Linked DNA regions of Homo sapiens: region 1 is reported to be linked to region 2. Evidence: microRNA targets listed by miRTarBase, many of them from high-throughput screens and not tested one by one. Region 2 holds a microRNA gene; the other region holds the end of a gene's coding sequence.
What was found. Region 2 holds the annotated microRNA hsa-miR-5189-5p (UCUGGGCACAGGCGGAUGGACAGG, at 3,186-3,209, shown strand). A microRNA usually pairs through its seed, bases 2 to 8, with sites in the 3' UTR of a target mRNA and lowers its output. Matches are read on the target gene's strand: a 7mer-m8 pairs with bases 2 to 8, a 7mer-A1 pairs with bases 2 to 7 and ends in A, and an 8mer does both.

Region 1 (4,390 bases), not on the chromosome of region 2:
TTGCCCAGGCTGGAGTGCAGTGGTGTGATCTTAGCTTACTGCAGCCTCCACCTCCTGGGTTCAAGCGATTTTCCTGCCTCAGCCTCCCGAGTAGCTGGGACTTAACAAACATGTGCTACCATGCCTGGCTAATTTTTATATTTTTTGTAGAGACAGGGTTTCACCATGTTAGCCAGGCTGGTCTTGAACTCCTGGCCTCAAGCGATCCACCCGCGTTGGCCTCCCAAAGTGCTGGGATTACAGGCGTTAGTCACCATGCCCGGCCTATTTATTTTATTTTTACCTATCTTTCCTACTAGAATATATAGTCTTCAGGAGCATGGATTACACAGATCACAATGTGAATGGTGCCCTCTGGAGTCGTGAAGTGTCATCCTGCTTCAACAGGGGCCTTGTCTCTTCTCTATACATTTATCCCCATCAGTCAGAACAGTACCCAGTGTTCACTTGGTCCTTGGTAAATATCTGACAATGAAAAAGTAGAAAGAGGACATTGTATCTGATCAATCCTTTGTGGGGTGGGGGTGTCCAGTGTACTCTGAACAGTGAGAACAAAAGGATAACAAGAAATAATTAATCATTTAACATTATCCTATTAAAATATTGTATAATTGCTTAGAGTACAATTTATATGAATTCATGTTCTTATATTCTTTTTACTCATAATCGCAATTTTAGGGATCAAAGGAAGCAGTTCCAGGTACTGGTAGAGAACAAGTTTTATGAATGGTTGATTAATACAGGACATCGCCAACAGCTGGACAGCCTTGTACCCCCTGCAGCAGGCTCCAAACAAGCAGCTGGATAAGGATCTTACATGCAGACACTGGTAGGCATTTATACCACTTAAAACAGATTCTTTTGGGGAAATCTTTCAAGCATAAAAAAAAGGCACAGAATATTATATACTAAACATGCCCAAATTTTTTCTACCGCTCCTACCAGCATACACGGACCTTTATGTACCCATATTTACCATATTTTATAGTGAGAAAACCAACCAAAATATTCAGATGGAGCCTATAGAATTTGGGGCCAATATAATGGCCAAATTTTGTCTTATTTTGCTTTTTGCCTGGGACAAGTTGTACTGTCCAAAGATACCACATTCCCCCATACATAGTTCTAAGTTTTATTCTCCTTTTCTAAACCTTTCCTCTTATCCATTCCCCTCACAAAAACCAATTTACAAATTAGCTGATCTTTGCTAATTACACATATTAGCAGTAATAAATTACCAGAATTAATCCAAATGAAGATTTGATTACTGAACACTAGAAGATCATGGATTAAATAGAAGAGAATATGCATACAAACAAATTTACTGGAAGTAAATTTAATCCAGACATATGGTATTCTTTTTTTTTTTTTTGAGACTGAGTCTCTGTCTCTCGCCCAGGCTGGAGTGCAGTGGCGCCATCTCAGCTCACTGCAGCTTCCGCCTCCTGGGTTCAAGTGATTCTCGCACCTCAGTCTCCGGAGTAGCTGGGAAAACAGGCATGCACCACCACAGCTGGCTAATTTTTGTATTTGTAGTAGAGGCTGGGTTTCACCATGTTGGCCAGGCTGGTCTCAAAACTCCTGACCTCAGGTGATCCACTTGCCTTGGCTTCCCAAAGTGATGGGAGTACAGGCATAAACCACTGCGCCCAGCCCCAAACGTATGGTATTCTTTTTTAATAGAGATTAGTATACTGTGTTAGTTTAAAGTTTTTTTTTTTTTTTTTTTTGAGGCAGAGTCTCCCTCTGTCACCTAGGCTGGAGTTGCAGTGGCACAATCTCAGTTCACTGCAAGCTCCGCTCCCCCGGTTCAAGCAATTCTCCTGCCTCAGCCTACCAAGTAGCTGAGATTACAGGCACGCACCACCGTGCCCAGCTAATTTTTGTATGTTTAGTAGAGACTTAGTTTCACCATGTTGGCTGGGCTGATCTTGAACTCCTAAACTCCTGAACATCGCCCACCTCGGCTTCCCAAAGTGTTGGGATTACAGACGTGAGCCACCGGAACTGGCCTAAAGTATTTTTAAATGCTAGCAATAGAAAACAGACAAAGGACAATAATAGATAGTTCACAGAAAAATACTTAGAGACACAAAAATGCTTACTTAAAATTAAAGAAATGTAAAATACTATTTTTTATTAGACTGGCAAAGAGCAAAAGCTGGTAGTACACAATACTGGCAAAACATTTCGTTTACCACTAGGAAAGTGTATATGTAACCTCTGTGGGGGGCAGTTTGACAAAATCAAAATTAAAAATACAAATTTTCTCTGACTCAGCGATTTCTTTTTTCTTTTTCTAGAGATGAGGTCTAATTCTCTTACAGGCTAAAGTGCAGTGGCACAATCATAGCTCACTGCAGCCTCCAACTCCTGCGCTCAAGCAATCCTGTCTCAGCTGGGACTGCAGGTGCATGCTATCACACCCAATTGATCTTTTTATTTTTCTTTAGAGACAGGGTCTCACTTTGTTGTCCAGGCTGGTCTTAAACTCCTGGCTTAAAGCGTTCCTCCTGCCTCGGCCTCCCAAAGTGCTGGGATTACAGGCATGAGCTACTGCACCTGCCCTGATTTAGCAGTTTCACTTATTATTAATAGAATTTATCTTACAGATAAACTCATGTATGTAGGGATCAATTAATTAATTAATTAATTTATTTATTTATTTTTGAGATGGAGTCTCACTCTGTCCCCCAAACTGGAGTGCAGTGGTGCGGTCTCGGCTCACTGCAACCGTCACTTCCCAGGTTCAAGTGATTCTCCTGTCTCAGCCTCCTGAGTAGCTGAGATTACAGGAACCGGCCACCGCACCCGGCTAATTTTTGTATTTTTAGTAGAGACGAGGTTTCACCATGATGGCCCAGGCTGGTCTTGAACTCCTGACCTCAGGTGATCTGCCCACCTTGGCCTCCCAAAGTGCTGGGATTACAGGCATGAGCGACTGCTTCTGGCCTATTTATTTAATTTTTAAATTGACAGATGAATTGTATATATTTATCATTTCCAGCATGATGTTTTGAAATATATATGCATGTGGAATGGCCAAATCAAGCTAGTTAACATTAGAACCTCACATAGTTGTCATTTTTGCAGTGAGAACACTTAAAATCTACTCTCTTTGTTTTTTTCAAGATCACACAGTATTGTTATTAACAACAGTCACCATGTTGTACATTAGATCTCTTCAATGTATTCCTCTTAGCTAACCGAAATTTTGTAACTGAAGATGTTTGATGTGGCATTGTTTAAAAAAACTGTGGACTAGAAACACCCCAAATGCAGTGTATTTATATGCTAATTATATGCCTAACAATCTTTGAAAGAATATAAAGAAATTATAAACAGTGTTTGTCTTTGAGGAATGAGATTGGGTGTCTAGGGTGGGAGAAAACTTCTTAAAAATTTTATTGAGATAAAATATTACCACATAACATTATGGGAAGTAAATTCACCTTTTTAAAGTAAAGAATTCAGTAGCTTTTAAGTATATTCAGAAGTTTGTGCAACTATCACCACTAAAAAATCTAGAACATTTTCATCACCTTCAAAATAAAGCTCGTACACATTGTAGGCCACTCCTTATTCCTCCAACCCCTACATTTCCTCTTCCCCTTAGTCCTTGGCACCACTAATCTACTTTGTCCATTTTGGACATTTTATGTAAATGGAATCATATAACATGTGGCTTCTTGTGTCTGGGTTCTTTCAGTTAGTGTAGTGTTTTCAAGATTCATCCATGTAGCCATGTATCAGTACTGCATTCTTTTTCATGGCCAGATAATATTCCATCGTGTGGATCTACCATTTTGTTTATCTGTTGATCAGTTGATGGACATTTGGCTTGTGTCTACTTTTCAGCTGTTGTGAGTAATGCTGCTGTGTACATTTGTGTACAAGTTTTTGTGTAGACATTTGTTTTTATTTCTCATGGATATATACCTAGAAGCGGAATTGTGAGGAATATATTTAACTTTTAAAGGAATTGCAGTTTTCCAAAGCTGTAAAAGTGTATTTTTTGCTTTAAATATTTACATTTCTTAAGGGTGTATTTTTTTTTAAAGAATTTAGCATGCCTGTAATCCCAGCACTTCGGGAGGCCGAGACGGGTGGATCACGAGGTCAGGAGATCAAGACCATCCTGGCTAATACAGTGAAACCCTGTCTCTACTAAAAAATACAAAAAATTAGCCGGGCGTGGTGGCAGGTGCCTGTAGTCCCAGCTACTCAGGAGGCTGAGGCAGGAGAATGGCGTGAACCTTGGAGGCGAAGCTTGCAGTGAGCCGAGAGCACCCCACTGCACTCCAGCCTGGGCGACAGAGCGAGACTCCGTCTTAAAAAAAAAAAAAAAAAAGAATTTAGCAATATTTATTAATAAATGCTGAGAATTAAG
Region 2 (4,390 bases):
TGGGACTCAGGTGCCATCGCGGCGTCTGTCTGGATAAAGCCGCCTCCTTCAGCTGATCCGAGATCCGGCGCTGATGGAGCGATTAGCGGCGATTAGAGCCCGGCGTGCGGCTAATCCTCCTGCTGAGGGACAGGTGAAGCAGCCATAGGGGTGGAGGAGGGACAGGTGAAGCAGCCATGGGGTGGAGGGTGCCAAGGGGCCCGCCGTGCACGGGGGAAACCAAGGCCACGCAGCTACGATGTCTCCTTGAGGCAGTGGCCCGGCCGCTCCCTCGCTGGCAGAAAGGCTTCCTGTGGAGCCGCCTGGGCTCCCAGTGGGTGCAGGCCAGCTTGCCATTTCCCCCTTCCTGGATTTTATATTTTGAGTGACTCTTGAGAAATGAGATCCTCTGGGAACCCAAAGGCAGGATCCCTGGGGCGGTGTGGATGGTGACATTTCTGGGTGGTTCTGGGACCCCCAGTTGTAGTGATCCTGATGGCGGCCGTGGTTAGACAACAGCTCCGTTACCCAGCCCCGGCAGTTCTGGCATGGAGTACTCTGCAGCCCTGGGAGGGGCGCCTATGACCTCATTCTCCTCAGAGAACTGAAGGCTCAGCGAGGTTGAGTAACTCACCCAAGATCACACAGCATGAAGAGAACAGAAGGGACCCTGGCTTCTGGCTTAGAGTCTAGCCGAGGTCAGAGTCTCCATCCTGGCTGGAGGTTCTGGGGTGTTTGCAGTGGGGGGCAGCCCACGAGCCTCCCAGGGGGCTCACCCGTACCTTTCAGGGAGAAAGGCCAAGCACAGAAAGGGCAGGGGACGGCTGAGGGCCGCACAGCCCATCCTGGCAGTGGGAGGGGATGGGCGGAGGCTGGCCTGCCTCTATTCTTGTTTCTTGGGTTCATTTCATCTGTCCCCAGAAAATAAGCTCCTTTGGTGAGAAAGTTGGTTTCTTTCTAACTTTTGGGTTTGGTTTTGTTTCAATATTCTAAAAGGAAGTCAGCTATTTCCAGTGCAGTGGGGTGTGTATGTGGGGGAGGGGGGTAAATGTCAGCTCCAGTGACCAGCGTTTAAATCCTGCCCCCTGGCCGGCAGCCTCTCAGTTTCCTCACTTGTATCATGGGCATGATCACAGTTCCAGCCTCCTTGGCCTTTGAGGAATTAGGGCAGAAGTGGGTAAAGCATCTGGGGCCCTTGTGCGGCAGGGCTCAGTGAACCCCAAAACGGCGGTGGTATTAATGGGGGGACACGAGCCGGGGCGAGGGTCCCTGGGGTGGGGCCACCTCTCCAAAGCCCTCTCTGCCCGCAGCCCACCCTCCCTGAATCCTACTGGCATTCTTCCTGCACGGTTTTCCGCCAACGGCTACAGTGTGCCGATGACCTCAGTGATGTCACCTAGGGCCTCGTCCCATCACACAGCGGCCAGAGTGGCTCCAGAACATTTGTCCCTGTGATCCAAGAGTCTACCCCTTGTCAGTCCCCCATAGTTGCCACAGTCACCCAGACCAGGAGCCGCAGCAAACAAGCAGGGGGTACAGCATCTGTCCCCATGGCCCTGGTTCTCACACACATCCCAGAGTCTCAGGTCTCAGTTTCCTCATCTGTCAAATAGGGCCGACACCGCTAAGCCTGCCCTGCAGGCCATGGCCAACCCCCCTGAGGTCTCCCCACCCCTCCCAGCGGTGCCCACCCAGGGCTTCTCGAGGAAGGAGCTCAGCACCCGCCCCAGTGACACTTCACTTCTCTGGGCTTTGCTGCCTTTTCCTATAAAATGGGGTGCCAGTCGCCCTCTCAGAGTCCTTTCAAGGAGCTGATGGTGTAGACCGCGAGACCTGCCTTGCAGGGCACATGCGCAGCTGCTCCTGTCATGCTGGGACCTCCGGACCCCGGGCCTCGCAGCTGCCTTGGATCCCCTCCCTCCTCCAGTCACGGGCTCTGGGCTGGCTGCTGGGCGTGTTGGGCACAGCGGGCCCTAAGCTGACCCGTGCCCTTTGTGGCTGGGACCTGAGATGGGGAGGCCCCCACCCCCTAGTTCCATGGCTTTGGGAGGTGGGGGTGGGGTGTTTTCTACTCTACCACCCTACAACGAAAAAGAAGAAAAGAGAACTTGATAAAAAAGGGCGATGCGTGCTGTGCGGTGGAGGAGGTGCTATCGCCGTTATCTATCTGCTTGCTCGAGCTGAGCGGCCCCCCTTCCCCTTATCTCACCCCACCCTAATGCCAGGAACAAAAGTGAGAACACACTCTCAACCCGCACACCCGCGAGCCCCCCACCGCCCCTCACACACCCGCGAGCCCACCGCCCCTCACGCCCCCGCGAGCCCACCGCCCCGACCCACCCGCGAGCCCACCGGCCGCTGACGCACCTGCGAGCCCACCGCCCCTCACGCACCCGCGAGCCCACTGCCCCTGACCCACCCGCGAGCCCACAGGCCCTGACGCACCCGCGAGCCCACCGCCCCTCAAGCACCCGCGAGCCCACCGCCCCTCAAGCACCCGCGAGCCCACCGTCCCGACGCACCCGCGAGCCCACTGCCTGCGGCGCACAGAGCCACCAGATCTAGAGGGAGAGCTGAGCACTCGGGGTGCTCTGAAAGTCATCATCATCATCATTTTGCAAAGAAAGCCCCCAAATAGCCCTCCCTGAAACAAGGCAGCCAAAAATAAGAAGTCGCTCTCAACAGGCCCCCACAGGAGAAAAGAGGCCGGCCTTGGAGAGGGGTTGGGACTTGGGGCCAGGTCCCAGCTGTGCCGGCCTCTTGGCTGTACGACCTTGGACCAGTATCTTTCCCACTCAGAGTCATCCCTGAATGGATGTCAGGGAGCCTTCGAGGAAAGGGGAGAGCCTGCACTGTAACTGAAGCCCCCCACCAGCCCCATGCAGCTTTCTGACCCTAGACTTGGGGCTGGGACCAGTCACCCAGAATCTGATACCCCCAGGGCCCCGCCCCCCAGAGCCCCACCCCCATGGCCAGGGCACCACTGTCCTAACCAGCCTGTTGGCAGCCAATGGAAATGGGGTATGCAAATGAGCAGGGGTGAGGCCCAGGGATTGGCTGAGCTGCTGTGTGGGGGCAGGGCCTCCTCCAGGGGCTGCCCTTGACCTGGGGGAGTAGTTCCCATCCTGGACCCTGCCCCAGGACGGGAGACCTCTGCCACCACCACCACCGGCTCTGGAAGGGCCCGCCTTTTAGGGGCCTCGCTGTCTGGGCACAGGCGGATGGACAGGCTGGCCTCTGGATGACCTGCCAACCGTCAGAGCCCAGACCCACGTGGCCTCAGTTGGGGACCAGGACCCAGGAGTTCCCGAGAGGAGTGCAGCCAGCAGCCACTCCCAGATGGGAACAGCGAGTTTCACAACCCGGCAGGGACGGCCCTGGGGCCAGCCAGCCTCCCACCCCCATGTCTGGGCCCACTCCAGACCCTCCTGCAGGCTGCCCCCCACCGCTCCACCCTCTCCCCGCGCTGACTTCCATCCGGAACCTCATTCTGCCAAGCTTCTGAAGTGCCGGCCGGGCCAGGGACGTGGCACCATCTTAATGAATGACAGTCCCAACCCCTTTGCCCACCCTCAGCCTCCCCATCTGTAAAACCGGAAGGCGGTCTAGTAGGTCTGCCTCCCAGGATGGTTTCTGGGCTCTTCAGCAAGCCCCTTGCCGGCCTGGGCCTCAGTTTCCCCTTCCACACCATGAGGCTGAGGTGGCAGGTTCTCTGGGGGTCCTCCTGTCTGTGGCTGTGGCATAGCCTGGAAACCTGGGGTCTTCCAGATTTCCCATTGTCAGAAATTCATGTGCCAGGAGACCATGTCTACAGGGGGCTTAGGACACCTTAGGGGGCATGCACCTGTGTTCTGCATCCACCCACACTGCACAGTGGGTCTTGCTGGCAAGACCAGGATGAGGCAGGCTCCGCCGGCCTGAGACCTGGCTGGAGGCCCTGTCAGCTCCCACGGCACCTGAAAATCAGCCACAGGTGTGGGTGTTTGTCAAAAATGTGTAAGTGGAAAATAGTGGCGGGGCGAGGAGAGAAAGAGTCTGGGCTGAGATCTAAGGAGAGGAAGTAGGGAGGGGCCGTCCGACCAGAACCAGACATCACCTTGGCCAGGGCCCCACCCCCTAACGTGGGGTGCAGTGCCTCTCACGTGGTGAGGGTCAGAGGTGCGTGCCCAGCCCAGAGGATCTCCCCACGCAGCCCTCCCAGTCTGCAGAGGGGTCTCCACACATGCAGGCAGCTCTGTCCTCTCCCAGGACAGCTTGGGGCATACAGTAGGTGCTCCATAAATACTCCCCAGCTGATTTCTGGATCTGCTCCCTGTGCCTGGCTGTGTCCCCAGAGGCAAAGCAAGCAGAAGGAAAAAGGAAACGGAGAAAAAGCCAGGGCCTCCAGAGCCAGCATTGTCCTGGGCAAAGG

Region 1: miRTarBase lists TBCCD1 as a target of hsa-miR-5189-5p. The part of its 3' UTR that is shown has no 7-base or 8-base seed match.

Annotation. Positions count from the first base shown.
Region 1 is chr3:186,547,568-186,551,957 of GRCh38, reverse strand. TBCCD1 (TBCC domain containing 1) reads left to right here. Exons shown (of 8, transcript NM_018138.5): 7 at 679-829. The coding sequence ends at 808. Among named protein-coding and RNA genes, the nearest start is that of CRYGS, 5.4 kb to the right of the region's middle.
Region 2 is chr16:88,465,758-88,470,147 of GRCh38, forward strand. MIR5189 (microRNA 5189) reads left to right here and starts at 3,161; the gene lies at 3,161-3,274. All of the region lies in intron 1 of ZFPM1 (zinc finger protein, FOG family member 1), which reads left to right.